Linked DNA regions of Homo sapiens. The protein of the gene in region 6 purifies or fractionates together with the protein of the main gene of each other region. This does not show direct contact. Each region holds a gene or a part of one and is shown on either strand. Other genes may lie near its edges.

Evidence for each region.
Region 1: the proteins of KCND3 (region 6) and RCN2 purify together in Homo sapiens (affinity purification with western blotting, with the first as the bait; one study listed by BioGRID). This does not show direct contact.
Region 2: the proteins of KCND3 (region 6) and NAP1L1 purify together in Homo sapiens (affinity purification with western blotting, with the first as the bait; one study listed by BioGRID). This does not show direct contact.
Region 3: the proteins of KCND3 (region 6) and SCN1B purify together in Homo sapiens (affinity purification with western blotting, with the first as the bait; one study listed by BioGRID). This does not show direct contact.
Region 4: the proteins of KCND3 (region 6) and RAPGEF5 purify together in Homo sapiens (affinity purification with western blotting, with the first as the bait; one study listed by BioGRID). This does not show direct contact.
Region 5: the proteins of KCND3 (region 6) and LBR purify together in Homo sapiens (affinity purification with western blotting, with the first as the bait; one study listed by BioGRID). This does not show direct contact.
Region 7: the proteins of KCND3 (region 6) and CNBP purify together in Homo sapiens (affinity purification with western blotting, with the first as the bait; one study listed by BioGRID). This does not show direct contact.

Annotation. Positions count from the first base shown.
Region 1 is NC_000015.10:76,945,249-76,948,748, forward strand, and holds part of RCN2 (reticulocalbin-2 isoform a precursor), read left to right. Parts: intron 1-2,172; coding exon 2,173-2,269; intron 2,270-3,161; coding exon 3,162-3,304; intron 3,305-3,500.
Region 2 is NC_000012.12:76,050,186-76,053,685, reverse strand, and holds part of NAP1L1 (nucleosome assembly protein 1-like 1), read left to right. Parts: intron 1-335; coding exon 336-481; intron 482-575; coding exon 576-595; intron 596-3,032; coding exon 3,033-3,155; intron 3,156-3,500. UniProt on the Homo sapiens protein: Histone chaperone that plays a role in the nuclear import of H2A-H2B and nucleosome assembly.
Region 3 is NC_000019.10:35,033,470-35,036,969, reverse strand, and holds part of SCN1B (sodium channel regulatory subunit beta-1 isoform a precursor), read right to left. Parts: intron 3,472-3,500; coding exon 3,231-3,471; coding exon of another isoform or gene 2,872-3,230; exon of another isoform or gene 1-2,871. UniProt on the Homo sapiens protein: Regulatory subunit of multiple voltage-gated sodium (Nav) channels directly mediating the depolarization of excitable membranes.
Region 4 is NC_000007.14:22,120,446-22,123,154, reverse strand, and holds part of RAPGEF5 (rap guanine nucleotide exchange factor 5), read left to right. Parts: intron 1-633; coding exon 634-749; 3' UTR 750-2,709. UniProt on the Homo sapiens protein: Guanine nucleotide exchange factor (GEF) for RAP1A, RAP2A and MRAS/M-Ras-GTP. Its association with MRAS inhibits Rap1 activation.
Region 5 is NC_000001.11:225,401,002-225,404,038, forward strand, and holds the end of LBR (delta(14)-sterol reductase LBR), read right to left. Parts: intron 2,463-3,037; coding exon 2,302-2,462; 3' UTR 501-2,301; downstream 1-500. UniProt on the Homo sapiens protein: Catalyzes the reduction of the C14-unsaturated bond of lanosterol, as part of the metabolic pathway leading to cholesterol biosynthesis.
Region 6 is NC_000001.11:111,979,669-111,983,168, reverse strand, and holds part of KCND3 (A-type voltage-gated potassium channel KCND3), read left to right. Parts: intron 1-370; 5' UTR 371-442; coding exon 443-1,548; intron 1,549-3,500. UniProt on the Homo sapiens protein: Pore-forming (alpha) subunit of voltage-gated A-type potassium channels that mediates transmembrane potassium transport in excitable membranes, in brain and heart. In cardiomyocytes, may generate the transient outward potassium current I(To).
Region 7 is NC_000003.12:129,170,612-129,173,896, reverse strand, and holds part of CNBP (CCHC-type zinc finger nucleic acid binding protein), read left to right. Parts: intron 1-2,125; 5' UTR 2,126-2,139; coding exon 2,140-2,263; intron 2,264-2,358; coding exon 2,359-2,451; intron 2,452-2,613; coding exon of another isoform or gene 2,614-2,619; coding exon 2,620-2,818; intron 2,819-3,285. UniProt on the Homo sapiens protein: Single-stranded DNA-binding protein that preferentially binds to the sterol regulatory element (SRE) sequence 5'-GTGCGGTG-3', and thereby mediates transcriptional repression. Has a role as transactivator of the Myc promoter.

The DNA.
Region 1 (3,500 bases), on a different chromosome or scaffold from region 6:
CCTTCCTTATCCTTTTGTAGCTTTCAGATTTTTTTTGGTTTTTCAATGTTAGTAATATTAGGATTTCTGTTTAATTTACAACATCACTTATGAAAGCTTTTGGTCTGGAAAAACATCATGTTTGGATTCTTCATAGGGTTGGTAGGGGTGCAGCTGCTAGTTAACTAGTAATGTTTTTGCAATTTTAAGTATAATGAGTCCTCTCATCCCTTTAATATTTAAAATAAGTACCAGTTTTTCAAAACTTTTGTTGAATTGTAAGTTTAACTCAACAAACATAAATTGAGTCCCTATTATGACTTGGCCAAGCTTGAAAGCATAAACCATCACACTGGGAAATAAAGACTAATGTAACAAATAGCTTTTTAAAAAAGAGACTAAACATTTATATTGAAGTCTGTTGCATGACATCAGCCTCCAGCTACGTGGCTTGGTTCCCTGGATATTTCAAAGAAGGAAGATATATCTTTTTGTTTAATGTGTCATGGTAGACCCTGCTGCCTTGCATAACAAGGCTGCAGATACATTTTTCTCCATAGCTCAGTGGTAAGACACTGTCATTAATACCACTTCTCTTGCCATTGTGAAGCTTCTAATTTCTCATTGGCACAGAATACATGACCCAGTTTAAGAACAGTGCTGGGTGTAATTTAAGTACCAAAATTAAGTTGGGAAAAGCTAATTGAGCCCAAGAATGACAGGCAAAGGATGCTAGATCTTGATTCTCTGGAGAATAAGGAACAATTGAAGACTAAAGAGGGGAATTACCAGTAAAAGCAATGAAATAATTTAGGCATAATGTGATACGGCCCAGAGTTCTATCTGGCAATTGAATGAAATAGATTTGAGCAACATTTTGAAGAAAGCATATGCAGGAATGTTGACTTACTAAATAAGTGTTAAGGGAAGGCAAGAGTCAGAGATGGGCCAGGCATGGTGGCTCACACCTGTAATCCCAGCACTTTGGGAGGCCAAGGCAGGAGGACAGCTTGAGGCTAGGAGTTCAAGACCAGCCTGGACAACATAGCAGACCTTGTCTCTACAAAAAAGTTAGCCAGGTGTGGTGGCATGCACCTGTGGTCCTAGCTACTTGGGAGACTGAGGTGAGAGGATCACTTGAGTCCAGTAGTTGGAGCCTATGATGCCACTATTATTGTGCCACTGCTCTCTAGCCTGGGTGACAGAATGAGATCCTATGTTAAAAAAAAAAAGAAGGGGGAGGGCTAGGCGGAGTGGCTTACGCCTGTAATCCCAGCACTTTGGGAGGCTGAGGCTGGCAGATCATCCGAGGTTAGGAGTTTGAGATCAGCCTTGCCAACATGGCAAAACACTGTCTCTACTAAAAATATAAAAGTTAGCTGGGTGTGGTGGCATACGCCTGTAGTCCCAGCTGCTTTGGAGGCTGAGGCAGGAGATTTGCTTGAACCCGGGAAGCAGAGGTTGTAGTGTGCTGAGATCATACCATTGTACTCTAGCCTGGGCTACAGAGCAAGACCCCATCTGAAAAAAAAAAGGAGATAGGAAGATATTGAGGAAAGTACTGAAACAGCTGGCCATTGAACAGGTCATCTTTAGGGAAAAGGATTGGTTGTTTGATAAGAAGCTTTGATAAGAGGGAGGAACAGATTTGGGGGCAGTTTGGGATGGATAGGGCTAGGTTTGCTGAAGGGGAAGCAAGGAGATTGAGGTATAATGGCGGGCTGGTACATTTTAGATCTGGAGGCAGAACAGCAGTTCTAAGGTAAGGGCTCTTTTAGGGTTGTTCATGGATTGGAGGGCAAATGAAGTTAAAGACAAAGGTAGTATAAGATGCTTTTCTTGAGAGGGAGAGATGTGCGGAAAATAGCATGAGAGTAACGCTGAGGTTGTTTATGAGAGTGAAAGTGGAGTTCTTCACAATATCAGAAGCTTAAGGATGTTGAATTTAAAGCTACATAGTACTTCAGGTTTTATTCTTGCTTCTAAATTCCAGTGTTTAGAAGGATTGTCTTGAAGATATGGACAACCAAAGTGATTTTTCCTGTATAAGTACCTTACTAGCTGATTGCACCACTAGAGCTCCAAAAATTATCATTTATTTCTAAAGAAGTTCTGTAGTAGAATTGAATCGGATGGCAGTGGGACTGAACATTTTGTAACTTTTTTTTTTCTTTTTTAATGAACGTGGAATAGGAATTTGTCATTCAAGAAGCTTTAGAAGAACATGACAAAAATGGTGATGGATTTGTTAGTTTGGAAGAATTTCTTGGTGATTACAGGTGGGATCCAAGTAAGTCACCTGGGAGAATGTGAAAAGAGAAAAGGAATTGAAGAAAGACATTGAAAGACAGCCTTGCTCATTGAAAGCTCTCTTCAACAGGAAATGTAATGAGGATCTGTGTCTGATCCTACTTGTTTCGTTAACTGTAATACAAGTTCAACAAATGGATTTATAGCTTATCTGAGAACGCTGTCTTGCTTACTTTTACTTCCGTGTCTAGAGTCAAACATTTTTCTTTCTTTTCAAACAAATCTAATTTTATTATCAGTTTAAATGGGGAAGGAAGTAAGGTAGATATTTTTAAACAAAATCCTGTGCTGTTGCAGGTGGATCTTAAAAGAGATAGAAACATAAAACACTACAAATACTGGTGTAAACACAGTATCAGAAGCTTAGTAGAAGGTGAATAAGTGTTTGAAATTAAGAGTTTGCTTTTATATAAGCAGCTGTTTTTTCAGAATTGTTGCTTAAAGACACCAAACAATGCCATTTTTAAATTGGTCACCAGTTTTACTTATTCTGATTGTCACTTTAAAATTACACATGGCATTACTTTGTGAAAACATGTAAGAAACTTTGTATAGAAACATGATATACAGTAAAACATTACCCACCTCACATCTGGGAAAACTAGATATCGGAACAAATAGCAGTTAACAAAATTACTAGTTTGTGAAAACATCCAATGATTTTAAAACTGGGTTGTTTAGACTCGTGTCACTTTTGAAAATGACTATATATTTGTTCTTATGTCAGGACTTTTCAGTTAAGTAGTTCTGTTTTATTGGGCTTTCTTTAGTAAACTTTAAATTCACTTCCTTTATTCTAGGGATATACCAAACTTCTTATTGGATACATGTGATATTCTTGTGTATGTATATTTGTGTTTTTTTATATTAAGCTGCAAATGAAGATCCAGAATGGATACTTGTTGAGAAAGACAGATTCGTGAATGATTATGACAAAGATAACGATGGCAGGCTTGATCCCCAAGAGCTGTTACCTTGGGTAGTACCTAATAATCAGGGCATTGCACAAGAGGAGGTAAGTGTTACAGAACAACTGTTTCTCTCCACCCCCTCCCCCCGAATTTGGTGCTGTTGATAGGAAAAGAAGTTCAAAATCTTAAGCCAAAGAAAGAAGTAATGGAGTTATTTGGGATTGATGCATTACTATGTTTTGAATTTACGAACTGTTTAGATTGTCAGGGAGACGAGGAAGTTAAGATTGTGTCATGTAT
Region 2 (3,500 bases), on a different chromosome or scaffold from region 6:
TATGTACATAGTCTGTCTCTGAACATTTTGGTAATATGTTTTCTGAAAAGTGCTTATCAAGTTTCCTGTAATTCTCCTTGGACCCATGACTGTCTCACATATATTTTTGCAGAGGAATGCTTCTTTAAATTATACTATGTGTTTGTGCTAATTGTAAATGTGTTTATTTTAAATATTTGCTTAGAAATAAAATTTTTCCCTTTATACTGCTATAGAAAACATTTGAAGCAATTCACCCTTCTAAAATTTGAAATCTAAATAGAACATTTACTTCTAAAAGTTTAGCAGTTGAAAGATTGTCAATTGTAATAGATTTTTCTTCTTTGTTTTGCAAGGTGCCAGATAGATTGGAAAAAAGGAAAGAATGTCACTTTGAAAACTATTAAGAAGAAGCAGAAACACAAGGGACGTGGGACAGTTCGTACTGTGACTAAAACAGTTTCCAATGACTCTTTCTTTAACTTTTTTGCCCCTCCTGAAGGTAAATAATGTTTTAGCTTGAGTATTAACGGTTGTTTTATAAAAAGCATTGCTTAGCTTCTTATTCATTGTAATTTCTTTTCTCAATTTTGCAGTTCCTGAGAGTGGAGATCTGGTAAGTTGAATTGTTATATATTTATTGAATTGTTAAGTATATTTGAAATTAAAGCACTGAATTTCAAAAATGGAGAGTGGGATGGTTGTTACATTGAGTTCTGAGGCCTACAATGCATGGGGCAGACTTTTTGGATATGAAAAATAATTCCATTCAAAATTATATCAGTGCTTCTGCTGAGAAACACTGAGATAAAAAGCTTAAGGTTTTCTTTTCTTTTGAAACTTCACATATTGCTGTGAGGGATTTAACTTTTCAAAACTGTTGTCTTCCTTAGTAAAACCAGAATATATTAAGTCACTTATACTGTTACATTCCTAACTACATTATGGTTCAAATTCATTCCTGAATTTGTTACTCCAATGTAAATATGGTTTCATATTGTGACTAAGTATGTTCACATATATGGCATATGGCAAAGAACATGAAATGTTCCTGCCATATAGACTGAACTGAGGAACAACCTTAAAGAAAGTCTATACACACAAGGTAGGGCAGGTATGTTTTGAATTTGGTTTTCTTTTGGGCATGTTTTTGAATTTAAATTAACTGAGATAGTTTAAATAGTTTGTACATATATGGAATTAGAAATTAACCTAAACTGAATACTTTTGAATTGGAATACTCTTGGCTAAGACTTAGAACAAATTTGTAAAAGGCAAAAGTAAGTATTTCTGGCTTGGCTTATAGGACAAAAAAAGAGAACATAAAGCAGTGTGAATTTCAGGTGAGAAAAACTACTTTAAGTATTAAGATAGAGCATCACACTATTTTCATATCAGTGGATGGGTTGGAGTTTGTGTTCAAGTTTGGGGTTTTTTTTTGTTTGTTTGTTTGTTTGTTACTAAATATTGATGATGACAAAACAGTCTAGTTAAGGATAGAAAACCTCCACCTGTGGTTTGAATTCCTCCCCACCCCCTTTTGGATTTTTCTATTTATTAGATTATGTTGTTGACTCAAACATTCATGGAATTCACAGAGGGTGTGCTCATTGTTTAGTATCATAGAACTTGTATCATTGTTTAGTATCATAGAAGTGGGATTATTTTATTTTATTATTATTATTTTTTTTTTGAGATGAAGTATTGCTCTGTCATCCAGGCTGGAGTGCAGTGGTGCGATCTCCACTCACCACAACCTCTGCCTCCCGGGTTCAAGCAATTCTCCTGCCTCAGCCTCCCGAGTAGCTGGGATTACAGGCACGTGCCATTGAACTCGCTAATTTTTGTATTTTTAGTAGAGACGGGGTTTCACCATGTTGGCCAGGCTGGTCTTGAACTCCTGACCTCAGGTAATCTGCCTGCCTTGGCCTCCCAAAGTCCTGGGATTACAGGCATGAGCCAGGCCAAAGTGGGATTATTTTAATTGTGAATAATGTCAGACCCACTTTTGCCCTGTGCTTTTCTATTAAATAGAAATCCTAAGCCAGGTACAGCTTCAGGCACCTGTAGTCCCAGCTGCTCTGGTGGCGGAGGTGGAAGGATCACTTGAGGCCAGCCTGGGCAACATAGCGAGACCCTGTCTCTAAAAAAGAAAAGTGCTAGGGGCACCTGATTTAGTTAGTATATTGTCTTTCTGAACTAGGACTGTCTCATTTGGGATTAGTAGACTTAAAACTGTACAGCTGTTTGGGTACTGTCTTTTAGGAACTATAAAGTGATCCTCTGTGGTTGTTTATTATGTCCTTCTATTTGCTATGTACTTAACAATATTAACAATAACTATATATTAACAATAACCCAAGGGTTTTTTTTTTTATTTTTCTATTTGGTGTTTTCAATAATATTTTAAAAGGAAAATTGCGGACATGTAACAGTTGCTTTTATGTATTTATGTTTAAACCAGCAAAAACTAAGCAGTTCTAATTTTTATTCTTCACAATTTATCTTAGTATGCATACTGGCCTGCTAGCTTATTTTCTTTTTGTTAAAAACTTGGAAAAGTTATTAAGGAAATTTAAAAATGACAAATCATTTGTTAACATGGTGTGAGAAAAATCATGGAAAGTAAAAAGTAAAGTTGAGCATTTCTTCCCTTCATCATATAATTTAAACTGAAGAGTCTGTCTTTTTTTTTTTTTTTTTTCGGTTGCCCAGGCTAGAGTACACTGGTGTGATCACAGCTCATTTCAGCCTCAAGCTGCTGGGCTCCAGCAATCTTCCCACCTCAGCCTCTCAAGTAGCTGAGACTACAGGCGTGTGCCACCCTGCCCAGTTAATTGTTTATTTTTTGTACAAACGCAGGGGGCGTCTCACTATGTTGCTTAGGTTGCTCTTGAACTTCTGGGCTCAAGTGATCCTCCTACTTTGGCCTCCTGAAGTGTTGGGACTACAGTTGTGAGCCATCACACCCAGCCTCTAAGAGTCTTACATGTGCCAAATTAAGTAACACAGTTATTCCTAAATTTTCTGCTTTTGTTTTCCTTTAAAAATAGGATGATGATGCTGAAGCTATCCTTGCTGCAGACTTCGAAATTGGTCACTTTTTACGTGAGCGTATAATCCCAAGATCAGTGTTATATTTTACTGGAGAAGCTATTGAAGATGATGATGATGATGTAAGCGAATTTGAATCCTGCAAAGAAATAATTGGTTGAGGGTATAGTGGTCAGAATTGGTAATAGATTAGTTTAGTTTTTAAGAAGCAGGACATAATATAATTCAAAATTAGGCTAATTACTGATGTTCTGTATATAGCTTTTCTGGGTTTTAAGTATGTCTCCTTAGGATTTTTGGATTCATTTATCTTAGCTTTTAATTTTCTGCTAATAAGATTGTTCTGAGTTTATGAAACTTTTTTATGTTTGGTTAGTGCTATAGATCTATTATGCCCTTGCCTTGACTTCACAGAGCTAGGACTTTCTTTAGTGCACAAGAAAACATTTACTGGGAGGCATAGAATT
Region 3 (3,500 bases), on a different chromosome or scaffold from region 6:
GCCTGGTCTACATAGCGAAACCCTGTCTCTACTAAAAATACAAAAGAATTAGCCGGGCGTGGTGGCGCGTGCCTGTAATCCCAGCTACTTCGGAGGCTGAGGCAGGAGAATCGCTTGAACCCGGGAGGTGGATGGAGGCTGCAGTGAGCCAAGATCGTGCCACTGCACTCCAGCCTGGGTGACAGAGTGAGACTCTAACTTGAAATAATAATAATAATAATAATAATAATAATAATAGGCTGGGCATGGTAACTTACGCCTGTAATCACAGCACTTTGGGAGGCTGAGGTGGGTGGATCACCTGAGGTCAGGAGTTCGAGACCAGCCTGGCCAACATGGTAAAACCCCGTCTGTACTACAAGTACAAAAATTAGTTGGGCATGGTGGCGTGCACCTGTAATCCCACCTACTTGGGAGGCTGAGGCAGAAGAATCGCTTGAGCCCGGGAGGTGCAGTGAGCCGACATTGTACTGCTGCACTCCAGCCTGCCTGGGTGACAGAGCGAGACTCCATTGCAAAAATAATAATAATAAGGAATGGCAGGCAGTGCTAACAAATACAGTAATATTGTGGTATTGTGGGTAATGAAAAAATACAATAGCACAATGAGTCATGTTAAAAATACTGTAGTATCAGAGGTAATGATGAATATAGTATGGTATAGAATGGAATATTTTTACATGCTACAATAGGATTAATTTTTGAAATACTATAGCATAGCATGGTGGGTAATAAAAATACCCGCCATGGTGGGGAACGTTAAAAATACGCTAGTATGATGGATTATAATAAAAATACTGTAGGCCAGGCGCGGAGGCTCTCTCCTGTAATCTCGGCACTTACGGCGGCTAAGGAGGGAAGATTATTTGAGGCCAGGAGTTCAAGACCATCCTGGGCAACATAGCAAGATCCAGTCTCTACAAAAAAAAAAAAAATTGCCGGGCGTAGTGGCTCACACCTGTAGTCCCAGCTACGTGGGAGGCTCAAGCAGAAGGATCGCTGGATTTCGGGAGTTCGAGGCTGCAGTGGGCTATGATCACGCCACAGTATCCCAGCCTGGGCAACAGAGCAAGACTTGGTCTCTTTAACAAAAAACAAAAAACTGTTGTGTTTGGCAATATTATGATAGTAAAATATATTGTGTAATATAAAATATCCTATAGTGGGTAATATAAAATACTATAATATAGTGGGTAATGTTTAAAAGGCAATACTACATATGGTGGGTAAAAAACACTAGAACTGGGTGGATAGTGCAGAAAACACAAACTCTGCAGGGCCAACATAAGGAACTGCATATGATGGTAAATGCTGGTAATAGCACAGGCTGTGGGATGTAGTGTCATACAGTGGGCAATCCTAAAAAAGAGAGGCTCAGGCCAGGCGCAGTGGCTCACACCTGTAATCCCAGCACCTTGGGAGGCCAAGGCAGGTGGATCATTACCTAAGGTCAGGAGTTCGAGACCAGCCTGGCCAATGTGGGGAAACTCCATATCTACTAAAAATACAAAAATTAGCTGGGCTTGGTGGCACATGCCTGTAATCCCAGCTACTCGGGAGGCTGAAGCAGGAGAATCACTTGAACCTGGGAGGCAGAGGTTGCAGTGGGCCGAGATCACGCCATTGCACTCCAGCCTGGGCAATAATAGCAAAACTCCGTCTCAAAAAATAAAAATCTAAATTTAAAAAAAAAAAAAAAGAGGCTCTATTGGGTCACGGCGTACAGAGGACACAACACCCTGGCCAACTGCCAAACAACAAGATGGAAAGAACCTGGGTGGCTGAACAGTGCCCTGGAGCCTCCCACCCTCTCCCCATCTCACCTCTGCAGATTTGCAAGAGCAATAACACAGGTTTTGTAAAGTCCCAGTACCGCAGGCATCTTTGTCACAGCAACTCCGCAGGCGGGGCTCCATCATCCATGTCTGCGGGTGACCCCCACCCCCCAGCATCGTGACAAACACCAGAGTGGCTCAGACATGCCTGCTGAATTGCATTCTGCTACACCAATTTGACAATAAACGTAAAAATGCTAATTATAAAAAGAAACCCACAGGCTCTGGCTGATCACAGAGTACAGTGAATCATGCCAAGAACAGAAACACAGTCACCCAAGCTCCTCTGGATTCAAGTCCAGCTCCCAATCACATGACCTTGGCCACATAACCTTCCCTCCCTGAGCCTTGGTTTTCTCATCCGTAAAATGGGGATAGGAAGAGCCCCTACCCCAGAGGGTGGGGAGAGGATTCACTAAGGGACTCCGTGTAAGGCACTGAGGCCGGCACCCATCTCACAGAAAAGATGGGCAGTGCGTGTTGCCCATGAGGATGTGTGTGCCGTGGCCCTGAGAGACCTTTCTGCCACGGCTTGTAGCTGCTTCAAGGCCTGGGCTGTTTCCCCAACTCTAAGCCAGTGGCCACAGGGCGCTGGACAATTGCAATTGATGCTGAGCAGAAGATGGATCAGAGAAGGGGCGGACCTCCCTCAGAAAAGGGGTCCAGGGTGGCTGAGGCAAAATGATGAGACGTTCAAAAGCGCTGTAGGCCCTTGCTGCTCAGAGGGTGGGCCCCGCACCTGTGGCCCTTCACTGCCTCACCTGAGAGCTTTAGAAAGGACCCCTAGGCCCGCCCCAGAGGTGTTGAGTGAGACTGCAGGCCAGCGCGGCTCCCCCGGGGCAGGAGTGCAGAGGGGTGTGCGGAACTCTGCTCTAGGTGGCACGCTCTCTTGCCTCATCACCACAGAGGGCAGCAGGGCTGAGCTACTCGAACAGTAAGAACCGCCACCCTCGCCACCACCTGCAAGGCTCTGCTGGAAGCCAGGCGTGTGCCTGCAGCTGCTCAATCCTCATGAACCCCATGATGGAAGAATGGCTCAAACCACACCCCGAGAAACACATCGGATTATTATCCCGGGCAAGCCCAGGACAACCCTTTGGCTCAGAGACAGAAGGCACCTGCCAGAGGTCATACAGCACAGGTGACAGAGCTGGGTTCTGTACCCGGAGCGTCTGTGGGGGACAGGCATGCTTTGACCTCTCCGTGGGCTGGAGAGAAACAGAGGCCAGAGCTGGAGTGGGCAGGAGGGGCTGCTCCCCTCCCCCTCAGCCCGCTGCTGTGGGCGGTTGGCTGGCCAGGCACAGAGCCAGCCTGTCCTGTCCACTGCCTGCCATCTGTCCCTCCATCTGGCTCTCCGGTGGGTGACGGTAAAGGGGCAGGCAGCACCCGACTCACCTTTGTCCACTACCTCAATGTGGATCTTCTTGACGACGCTGGTGTTGTGCTCGTAGTTTTCGAAGAAGAGCAGGCGGTAGACGTGGCACTCGTAGTCGCCCGAGTGGTTGTAGGTGACATTGGTGATGAAGATAGACAGATCCTGCAGGTCTTTGGTGCCCCGGCTGCCATTCCACACCACGCGGCCCTCGAAGCGCTCATCCTCCTCCAGCTGCAACACCTCATTCTCATAGCGCAGGATCTAGGGGTAGCCAGGGAGGGGAAGGTGTC
Region 4 (2,709 bases), on a different chromosome or scaffold from region 6:
AGACTTTAGTCCATACACATACTTTCTGAAGCTATTTCGTCTGTTAACCACATCTTAGAGTCTGTTCTGTTGTATCTGTTCATTCAGTTGCTCCATTAAATTTTTTTTTCCAAAAAATGAGAATACCAAAGAATTGTACAAAATCTAAACAACAGAAAAAGAGTGATTGCATTCATATGCTAAATACATTATCAGCGATTTTCAACGCTTCTAGACTGAGATATAGGACCCAGTGCTGGCCATTTAAACAGGTAACTGCTGTGAAAGGCTACCTAAAAGGGCTCAGGAACCATCTGTCCTGGGTCCGAATCCTGGCTGTGACAGTTAACTTGCTGCGTGACTGTGCTCAGTTTCCCCATCTGTGGAATGAGATAATAACGTAATTTCTAAATAATATACAATGTTAGGTAATAAATGCTATAAGTATCCTGCCAGTCTGATTGCCTGACCTGAGGAATCCATTCTGAGCTGAAAAAGCATTTCTACTGTAGGACAAGGACACCTCTTATGGGATTCTGACTAATGAGAACCCACCTAGTACATTTACTCAGCCTTAGTGTGGGGTTTTGTTGGTATGTAGATACAGCATTACTGCTCTCCTGAGATTGTCTTTTTTCCCCCTCTAAACAACAGGTGACCTGTCTCCAAAAGAGCATCAAGAGTTAAAGTCCTATGTTAATCACCTGTATGTCATTGACAGCCAGCAGGCTCTGTTTGAGCTCTCACACAGGATCGAGCCTCGGGTGTGAGCCCCACTGCCTCACCTCCCCTGTATCTGCAGCACTTTGAGCTACGGGAATGTCTATGCCAAGCACGTTGCTTTCCTGTGAGAAAAGAAGTTGCTGAGTTTTATCAGTATAACCCAAGACATTCACAGGAAAGCCAGCCAAAGCGTGTTCAGGAAGTGATGTCAGCCACCAGAGAGGGGGAGAGGTTTCTCCATGCTACTCTCGGGACAAGAAGGCAGAAGGAGAGTCAGAAGCATTCTTGAGATGGAGAAGGCTGGTTTCTTATGATCACATTGTTGATCCAGTCCAGTTTTCAATATGAGATGTGCCAGCATCAAGACAAGACAACGTCTTGACATGCAATGACCAAATATTTCATTAAGAGCGTGCATGAAACAGGAAGGAGTTTTTACTTTGCCTAGTTTTAGATTACTGTCCATAAGCTGTCAAAGAAGTCATTCTTTTGAACACCTGATGACAGAGACAGCATCTCTAGATCTCCAGGGAGGAGAGGTTTCTGTTGATACAACCTGTGACATCACCAAAAGCCACTTGTGTCTAGGGAGTTAGTGAGGACTGCAGCTAGCATCCATGCTCTGATGGGCAGATGAACAATGTCAAGGTGTGCATCACTTTGCACCACAATCAACTATTGACACATGCTTGCAGGTGAAATTAGTTTCTGTACAACTGATTTGCAGCTATAGGCAAGGTAGATGAAGTTGCTTTGCCAGTAAGGAAAAATAGTAATCTTTAAGAAATTGACTCATTGTTTAATTTCTGGGGATTTTCTTTATACTTCTAAGCAGGCTCTTATCTTTTATTGGACATAATATGATTTTGAAAAAGCACAGTGCCTGACACATTGCAAACACTCACCAACTGCTTGCTGAGGTGACAGAGTCACAAAAGTCTGCATTCTTGTGCCTGATGATGCATTTTGCGTACCTCATACAGGCTCCTTGCCCACACTATGGAATGACAGCAGCCAGTGCAGGGAGGTTAAGTGACATTTAATGAGTGAAGCACTTAGCACTCTCTAGGTAATAAGATAGTGGTAATTACTAGTGTTTTGGCAAATGAAAAATGCCCTGAAATAGCCAAATGTCTGATTAATGTTGGCAACTTAGAAGTCCTATAATCCAACTACCAGCCAAAGCAGGGAGCCTTTCTATAATTTGCCTTTTTTTTTTTTTTTTTCAAAATCTGAGTCTTCTAAAATCTTATTATTCCCATTTTTACCAATTGAGGCTCCTGTAGCAAATAAGACCTCTTGATATTTTCAAGGACTGGTTAGAGGATTTCTTTCAACCTTCACATGAACAAAACAGCCTATGGGTCAAAATAATGAAATCCACCCCTGCCTGCTAGATACTTGTCACCTTGCTAAAATGCAAGGGCCTGGTCCATTCATTTTCCAAATGCAGGAGTCTTGGTGCACTTCTCACTCTTCCTGCCTGTTCATCTCTTTCATGCCCACACAGACCTGTTTCCTTTTTGTCTCATCAACGCCTCATTCATCCTCATTACTGAGGCGTGTCCAATGCTTTTTGACATCTTTATAGCAGTGCTGTTTCCTGGGCTCAGGAACCACACTGAGCTTGAGATACTGCTGGAAGGAACCATGTGGAGAGAAGGTTTGGGAGAACTTTGAGAGAGACTTAGTTTGGCCCAGCATGTAAAACTTCAGTCCTGAACATTTATAGGGTTTTATAGAAGGGCATCCTCCAGGGCTGGTCCATTCAGAGAAATGCTGCATGCTGCCGTCATGGAATGTGGCCCACAGGACACCAGAGCCGTGAGAACCGGAGAGCAGACTTCCCTCACGGCTGGGCTGAGCAAACCCTCCAAAGCCCTCCTCACGCAGTTACTAACAATAGCATGGGCTTACAGCACAAGCACGTGTTCTCACCTTTTTCCTATGCCCTGGACTAAGGTTTGGCCAGTGTAATCATATAAGGCCATCCTGACATTGTTTCTG
Region 5 (3,037 bases), about 110 Mb from region 6:
CACATTTTGCAATGTAATGTCACAATGTAACGTCGCAGCAGGAAGAATTGAGAGGTGAAGCTGTCTGATCTCATCTCACAATTCAGGCTTAGAGTCAACTGGAAATCCAAACAAGCACTAAAGCACGGTCAGCAGGCACAGTACATGTGTGTGTCTCGTGTGTCTCTCACACACGTACTGTCTTTCAAATGCACAGATGCTTCTGTGATTCATACAAATGCATTTGAAAGTATGACTGGATCTACAATAGTTTTAGCATTTCTGTATTTTCTCAAACAGCAAATACTAAACACATGACCATTTTCTGGGAGTTAGGATTCCCAACTAACCCCTTTGAGTTCCAACATTCTGAGAGTTTTAAACAGCAGTTGGCCAGGGGTCCCAAACAGATGATCCTAGGAAAACAGGAGGCTGGGCAGGGGTGGGAATCTAAGGGCTCCTGTCTTGGTCCCAAAAATCTCAGTTTCAAGCAAGAAAGGGAAAAAAAAAAGGCTCCAAAGTGATCAAAATGTTGCTACATTTTATTTTCAACTTAAAACTTCATTATAAAATTTGCCAAATAAACATGTCAAAAACAAACTTAAAAACAAAGTGTAGCTGATATCCAGAAATTGCAGCACTGTATTGATAAAGGGCTCTTTTCATTACCAGGGAAAGAATTTAATGTCCTTCCTTCCTCCCCAAAAGCTTCCTTGGTGCAATCCAGTACAGAAAACGCCACCACTTTCTGATGCCAGGAGAAAAGCAAAATAAAAAAACTGCTTGCACACATTAGCACTGATAAAACAATGACAATTTCACTAAAAGAATGTTTAAAGACTACCGGATGCTGGAGCAAACCAACTTCATGACTGCATTAACATAAGCTAAGTTACATACACTTCAAATGCAGTATAGAATTAACACTGCATATCTAAATGGCTCATATATAAAATGTGTAATTAAAACCCAAACATACACACTATGTTTATTACATTCCCCTACATTGAAAGTACTGAGAACAATTTAACTCTGAACACAAAAGTTTAGTGAATTTGCTACTGTTCCATTACAGGACAATTAAAAATGAGACTATATCAACTTCACTAGAATTTAATTGCTAAAGCTACCTTATGCACATCTATTAAACTAAAAGAAACGACTTTAACCCCTTCAGTTGTTTTTAAGACAGCACTCCTTTACAGGGAGTCAGGTTTGGTAAATATAAAGGATACATAAAAAATACAGTATAAACTGCATAAGCTTAACAGTAGCAAAAACACTGATGAACTTTTAAAAAGTCAAAAATATATAAAAATATTAGCCTGAAATGGCAAATTTTCAAACACCGATCTGTGTAAAAATGTTTAAATATTGATGTTACTCCAAAAATATATACTTATTCTATTTTTTTTCTATTTGCAACAGTTTATAAAGGCAAACAAACACCTGCAATTGAGGTAGCAAAGCCAAATTCACAAACTTTGGATCAAGAAAAATACCCTTCCTATGTTTTAACAGCATCTTCTATACAATAGTGAATGAATTCTAATTGTTCCAAAATTTTTAATTCACATTACTTTACAAAATTTTATTTAAAATACTGAAAATGTTTTGTTAAAAAGACAGTTAGTCCTGACAATCATCTCACATTCAAAATACTGTACAAAAAAATCTGAAGTCACCATATATTACAAAAAACTAAGCTATGTATTTACATTTTCAATGTAGTTTTAGAAGTTGAGGTTAAGCCAACTGCTACAAATGGTCTCCTTTAAGCAGTGTCTGCTAATAATGTCATCACTTTTCACTTTCAGCATTTAATATAGGCCCTTCTTTTTGCTTTCAAATTATATAATTAGTAAAGGATTTAAAGAAAAACAAATGAAAATTCTATTCTCTTACTGAATAAAACATAAATGTACTTTAAATGGAACAGTGTTTTCATTTAAGAAAAGCCAACTGGCAAAAAAACATCAAAATTTGAAAAGTAATCAGAAACCATAAACATCAATAGCATTCTTCACAGTACATTTATATTAAGACTGTCTTCTGTTTTCAGATTAAGGGTTGAAAATTTCCCATTAAAATGCAAATTCTCACATCCTTACTTGTATTTTTCCTATGTTAACTGTAAGTTAATACAAGTAAACACGGCTATATTAAAAGATCAACTACTCGGCTCCATAGTCCTGACTCAAAAAGAAAAAAAAAAGTACAGACCCTGTCAGTGCAACAAAAGAAAGTTTCGGATTTTTTTCCTTGTTTTTGCAAATGGCAGCTGGAATTGCAGGAGTATTTTGTAGAAAAGCCAGAAGAGCATTAGTAGATGTATGGAAATATACGGTAGGGCACACGCTGACAGTACTTTTCCCAAGCCACGCCGTATTTCTTCTTACAGTGGTACTCGTCACGAGCTTCTCGGTGGACAAGCAACATGGTGAAATAAATTATGTAGAAATAAGGCAGAATGTGGTTAAAACCTGTGGATAATAATAGTACACAGTATTAGATATTTTTATTATCACTACAATGTATTTTTTCCTGCTTTCCCCCAAATTCTCTAAAAATGGAACCACAAGGTACTTCATTTTCTCTAATAATGATGAGAATAATTAAACAAGTCTGTAAAATCCCACTGGAAAGTGGCAGAAGGTCGTATCTAAATTAGAAGCTACTCAAAGACTGATGAATCCATTCTAACAATCCATCACAATCAAAACATCTGTCCTCATAGTTAATACACATCTCTTCATTTCTCGCCCTTCTTCCCCCAGCAAAGAAGAAAAACTGCTGTCTTCCACCACAGGCTGGGCCACCAAACAGGCAGCAGGCACGGGCCAGCTCCTCCACCTCCACCAGCTCCCCTGGATCCCCCTGCTCCCCCAGTTCCCCCAGCTCCCCCAGCTTCCCAAGATCCCCCTGCTCCCCCAGTTCCCCCAGCTCCCCTGGCTCCACCAGTACCTCCAGCTCCCCCTGACACCCCAGCTCCCCAAGCACCTCCAGCTCCCACAGCTCTCCCTGCTCCCCTGCTTTCCCAGCTCCCCACGAGGCCAGA
Region 6 (3,500 bases):
CTCTCCCAATTTAAATTGGTAATAACGCCATAACCTTTCAGAGCTGATTATTACCCACGTCTTGCCAGATCTTCCTGCTAAAGAGGCCTTCCCTCCAAATGCTCTTGAGCCCTCTTGGAGCTTGACGATTTGTCAGGCAGTCAGCAACATCTGGCGATCCCACCCTGCCGAGCTCCAGGAGCTAGGTGTTCTCCCAGTGTCTGGATGGCAAAGAATCAAGTCCCCTCTCTGTGGTGGGGATTTCAGTTTTATTAATCTGCCCTGGAGACTTTGGCCGTTTCACTCACCAGTGATCCTTTCCTGTGTCCCATTTCTTACCTGCCAGTCGATATGGACTCACCGCTTCTCTCTCTCCCCTCCTGTCTCCCAGGGTTTGCTGAACTAACTCCAAGCTGGTGTGCCTAGCGTCCGCGCGGCTGCCGGCCCAAGAGCTGGAGTCACCATGGCGGCCGGAGTTGCGGCCTGGCTGCCTTTTGCCCGGGCTGCGGCCATCGGGTGGATGCCGGTGGCCAACTGCCCCATGCCCCTGGCCCCGGCCGACAAGAACAAGCGGCAGGATGAGCTGATTGTCCTCAACGTGAGTGGGCGGAGGTTCCAGACCTGGAGGACCACGCTGGAGCGCTACCCGGACACCCTGCTGGGCAGCACGGAGAAGGAGTTCTTCTTCAACGAGGACACCAAGGAGTACTTCTTCGACCGGGACCCCGAGGTGTTCCGCTGCGTGCTCAACTTCTACCGCACGGGGAAGCTGCACTACCCGCGCTACGAGTGCATCTCTGCCTACGACGACGAGCTGGCCTTCTACGGCATCCTCCCGGAGATCATCGGGGACTGCTGCTACGAGGAGTACAAGGACCGCAAGAGGGAGAACGCCGAGCGGCTCATGGACGACAACGACTCGGAGAACAACCAGGAGTCCATGCCCTCGCTCAGCTTCCGCCAGACCATGTGGCGGGCCTTCGAGAACCCCCACACCAGCACGCTGGCCCTGGTCTTCTACTACGTGACTGGCTTCTTCATCGCTGTCTCGGTCATCACCAACGTGGTGGAGACGGTGCCGTGCGGCACGGTCCCGGGCAGCAAGGAGCTGCCGTGCGGGGAGCGCTACTCGGTGGCCTTCTTCTGCCTGGACACGGCGTGCGTCATGATCTTCACCGTGGAGTACCTCCTGCGGCTCTTCGCGGCTCCCAGCCGCTACCGCTTCATCCGCAGCGTCATGAGCATCATCGACGTGGTGGCCATCATGCCCTACTACATCGGTCTGGTCATGACCAACAACGAGGACGTGTCCGGCGCCTTCGTCACGCTCCGGGTCTTCCGCGTCTTCAGGATCTTCAAGTTTTCCCGCCACTCCCAGGGCCTGCGGATCCTGGGCTACACACTGAAGAGCTGTGCCTCCGAACTGGGCTTTCTTCTCTTCTCCCTCACCATGGCCATCATCATCTTTGCCACTGTGATGTTTTATGCCGAGAAGGGCTCCTCGGCCAGCAAGTTCACAAGCATCCCTGCCTCGTTTTGGTACACCATTGTCACCATGACCACACTGGGGTAAGTCAGCGCTGGTGGATGAAACCAGGACGGAGGTTGGAGGGCAGCTGGATGACCTCTGAAACCTTGGATGGTGTCACCATGGGTAGAGGAGGAGGGAGTCCCTTACCCAAGTGTTGGGGGCAGGGGAAGTTGCTCTATCCGAAGGGTAAAGCCCATGAGTCATCTGTTTGGGGGTGGTAGCTTGCTGGGAATTGAGTTTTCTTTTTGAGGTCGGGGCATGTGTTTTATAGAGCTAAGAAAATTAAGTCACCAATTCTTTTTTCAGCCATGCCTTGTGTGCGTGTGAAGTCTCGGGGTGAGGTGATGTCTGCATTTGTATATGCATTTGCGCATATGGGGCAGCGTGGGGAGAAGGTCAGGGCAGTTGTTGGGGAGGGAGGAGACTGTTGAGAAGTTCGGAGGGTTCAGATGTCCATTACCAGAAGACACCAAGAGCACTCTTTTTGGATCCTTTCTGCATTTTTTCTTTGTAGTATATTTTGCAGGCCATTTTCCCATTTGTTATGCTTTTCTCCTGTGCTGCCACAGACACTCAAGCGTTCAGTAGCTCTGAGCAGACTTTCTCTAAGTGACTCTGAACCTGGATTTTTCGCAGTAAGGCACGTGGTTTATTCTTTCTTTCTAAAGCAGTATCAGTCTTGCTTTTTAGTCTGAGTCAGTGATTGAATGACCTGGGTGACTGTGAGATGGTCTGAATGGATCATGTGGTCAGACACAGAAGCAGCAATATCATCAGAAGGAGGGACAGGTGCTCGGTGAGGTCATGGTAATTCCGTCTCTCCGAGGTCTCCTCTCCAGCTGAGGTCACAGAAATGTATTCATGATGCTGGGATGTGAAGCTTTCCATCAGAGGAAGGGGGCTCAGGAAGGAGATTACAGTCTTCACCCTAGCAGGATTATAGCCAATAAAGGTGGCTTTATGGAAACATAGATTTCTTAGGGGTTTCTGCCTCAGCTATTAGAAACCATGGAGCCTAATGCAAAATCCCTCCACAATTCATATACTGGGTCTATATTTGCTTAGGCTAGGAAGCGTTATATTGCTGATGGAGAATTCATGAAGCTTTTTATTTTGTCTTTGACAGTGTGGTTGGTGGTGTCCTGGTGATTTGATTTTTTTTTTTCCTGGCCAAAACCCAGAGGCAATAGTGTTGGTTTTTCCATAGTGCTGCGTATGCTTATTGGGAATGACTGAGCAGGTGACGAGACCTTTTAAAATGATTACATTTGTCATTCTGCCACACACAAGAGGGAGGGAGTAGCAAGGGGAAGAGCAAGGGTGTCACCATCCATTTGTGAAGGCCACATTTGATTGGGGCATTCCCTTTACTTCTTATCTGTCTGACAGAACCACCCTGCCCCTTCCTCCCACTCCAACCCACACACACACACACACACACACACACACACACACTCTTCAAATGGCTGCTCACCCAGAGTGGGTAAGAATGTTTGGTCATTTGACCTTGTTTCTCTTGGCTCAGGTGGCAGATGTGGGCTTTTTGGCACAGTGGGGTATTTTGGAGATAAAATGGACTGGAGAGCTTGTGCTGTCAAGAGGTCGTCTTTATCCCTTTTAGGCTGACCCTAGCCATCCCTTCACCTTCCTGAAGGGGACCTCACCCATGGCCAGACACCTCACTTCCACTTCTAGTCAAGCTCCTGATGTGGCTCTGACTGCCCAGTGCCCTCAGATGCCCCTTGATGGGACTCATGACATCAGAGAGATCCTTCAGGATAGCCATGTGGAGGAAAACAGGCATGGTGATAGCCACCTACTCATTACTTTTTATTAGTAGTATAACAGCATATGATTGTCTACTATATGTCAGCAGTGTACTAAGAACTTTGCATATATTATCTCTTTAAGTTTTTACAACAGCCCTGCAAGGTTGGAAAAAATTCTGTACCCTATAAAGATGCAGAAGCTGAGGCTCAGAGAGACTATA
Region 7 (3,285 bases), on a different chromosome or scaffold from region 6:
GGGTCTTTGGCACTGTGGTTAGGTTAGCTAATTCGATTATCCACTCAAGTTTTACTCAGTTGGAAATATGTTTTTCTAGATGATGGTGCCTGTGCTTAGGTTTGAGAGGATATTTAAAATACGACTTTGTGTGCCATTGTTTGACAGTGGAATTAAGGGTAAAAATATTTAGATATGGAAGTGTGAAAATGTAGTTGCATTGTTTTCATTATGTTCTATTCCATTTCATTCTATTTTAAGAATAGCCTCAATTTATTTTTAGATTGTTACATAAGTACAAAATCCATTTGCTTTAGTGGGAGTTTTATTTTTATTTTAAAATGATAACCAATTAAAGGAGTTTATTATGAAATTCTAAGTAGCATTGTTTAAAATGTAAAATTACATTACAGAAACATTTGGAAAGGGGAGAATAAAAGAAAACAAAACACAAATGTTGCCAGTGCTGTAGGTGCTATTATTAGCGCTTTGGTGTAACTCATGGTCGTTTTCCTACTATTTTTATTATACAGTCATCTCTTGGTATCTGTGAAGTGGTTCCACAAACTCCCTCAAATACCAAAATCCTCCTATGCTCAAGTTCCCAATATAAAATAGTGTAGTACTTGCATTACAACCTTTGCACATCTTCCCATATACTTTAAAATCATCTTTAGATTACTTATAATACCTAACACAATGTAAATGCTGAATAAGTAGTTGTTAACATTGTATTGTTTAGGGAATAATGGCAAGAAAAGTCTGCATGTTCAATACAGATGCAACTTTTCCACTGAATATTTTTATTCCAAGGTTGGTTGAAGCCATGGATGCAGAACCCATGGATATAGAGGGCCTACTGTACTTGTACCATCTAGAGATAAGATTTGTATCTTGCATTTGTTTTAACATATCTGTTCTAAGGAATATCTCAGTCACCAGGCAAGTGCTGCAGTATAACTAGGTACTACGTCAGGTGCTAAGGTTAAGAGAGTATTTTCCTTCACTGACTCCTCACTCCGAGAATCCATTTTACAGCTTCATTGGTTTGGGTTATTCCAATTTTTTGATGTGAGTAAATAAATGACTTCTATTTGCCCAAAATAAAGCTTATATAGGCCTTATAACCATGCAAATGTGTCCATTAAGTTGGACTTGGAATGAGTGAATGAGTATTACTGCCAGTGTGTGTGTGTGTGTGTGTGTGTGTGTGTGTGTGTGTCTGTCTGTCTGTCTGTCTGTCTGTCTGTCTGTCTGTCTGCCTGCCTGCCTGCCTGCCTGCCTGCCTGCCTGGCTGCCTGTCTGCCTGTCTGCCTGCCTGCCTGCCTGCCTGCCTGCCTGTCTGTCTCACTTTGTCCCCTAGGCTGGAGTGCAGTGGTATGATCTCGGCTCACTGCAACCTCCACCCCCCGGGTTCAAGCGATTCTTCTGCCTCAGCCTCCTGAGTAGCTGGGATTACAGGCGCATGCCGCCATGCCCGGCTGTTTTTTGTATTTTTAGTAGAGACGGGGTTTCGCCATGTTGGCCAGACTGGTCTCAAACTCCTGACCTCAGATGGTCCACCCGCTTCAGCCTCCCAAAGTGCTAGGATTACAGGCATGAGCCACCGTGCCCAGCCACTACCAATTATTTCTCTTAATGGATTTTCATTGACCCTAACCCTGTAAATTCCATCACTTTTATCAAGGTGTATATTATAATAAGTCTATAATACCCAATCATGTAGTTGTGTGATTATTTTATTTTTTTGAGACAGAGTCTCAATGTTGCCCAGGCTGGAGTACAGTGGCACCATCTCAGCTCACTGTAAGCTCCGCCTCCTGGGTTCACACCATTCTCCTGCCTCAGCCTCCCAAGTAGCTGGGATTACAGGCGCCTGCCACTTCACCGGGCTAATTTTTTGTATTTTTCGTAGAGACGGGGTTTCACCATGTTAGCCAAGATGGTCTCGATCTCATGATCCACCCACCTCGGCCTCCCAAAGTGATGGGATTACTGGCGTGAGCCACCATGCCCAGCTATTTTTTTAACCAATATATTAGCTAGCTTTTTTCCCCAGAATAATTTTCCAAAAATACATTTAATAGAGAATAAAAGTTAAAAGAACTTTCAGTGGTTTAATGCTGTTACTTTTAATATTTCAAAGATCTGACTGCAGCCATGAGCAGCAATGAGTGCTTCAAGTGTGGACGATCTGGCCACTGGGCCCGGGAATGTCCTACTGGTGGAGGCCGTGGTCGTGGAATGAGAAGCCGTGGCAGAGGTGGTTTTACCTCGGATAGAGGTATTTTGTCGAATAGAAAAATTTGAAGTACTTCAGTATTTGTTAGTATCAAGACTGGTCTGACTAGCCGAATTCTTTGTTTTTGCTCAAAACAGGTTTCCAGTTTGTTTCCTCGTCTCTTCCAGACATTTGTTATCGCTGTGGTGAGTCTGGTCATCTTGCCAAGGATTGTGATCTTCAGGAGGATGGTAAGTATTTAACACTTCCTTTTCATACCCCTCTAGAGCTTGGAGAGGTGAGCACATGCAACTGTGTATAGCATTTCCACCTTTGAGGTTTTGTATTGTATAATTTAAAACGTAACACTTTGTAAAGGTTTTATAGTCTTGGCCTGTTTCTTTTCCTTATTGTTGAAGCCTGCTATAACTGCGGTAGAGGTGGCCACATTGCCAAGGACTGCAAGGAGCCCAAGAGAGAGCGAGAGCAATGCTGCTACAACTGTGGCAAACCAGGCCATCTGGCTCGTGACTGCGACCATGCAGATGAGCAGAAATGCTATTCTTGTGGAGAATTCGGACACATTCAAAAAGACTGCACCAAAGTGAAGTGCTATAGGTAAGGTGTCAGAATGTTGTTAGAAGAAAACTCATTGCAGAGATTCTTCCAGAGATGAATTAGCTATAAATGGAAGGGCCTTAGTAAATTCAGTGAAACTTAGCTGTGACCAGATAAGACCAATTTTCAGCATATGTAACTGGCAGTCTATCTGTATATAATTCTGTATTCTGCCCTGATATCCTGTGGCTTATGGTACCTGGGCAGTTTTCACAACTGGACTTTTTTAATATATAAAAGTAAGAGTGTTATAATTTGAAACTTCCAGAGACTTCATAGAAAGCTCTGTAATATACATAAATCTTTTATCATGTAACCAGAAATCTTTGCCTGTTTGTGACATGTAAGTGTATAATTTGATAAATGTTGTTGTGTACATATCTGTGAAACCTTAGGGGTTAATTGCATGAAAACAAAGATCAGGCGTTTTGTTCTGCATGGTGACTGTTGCTTTGGTAGACAGTTTT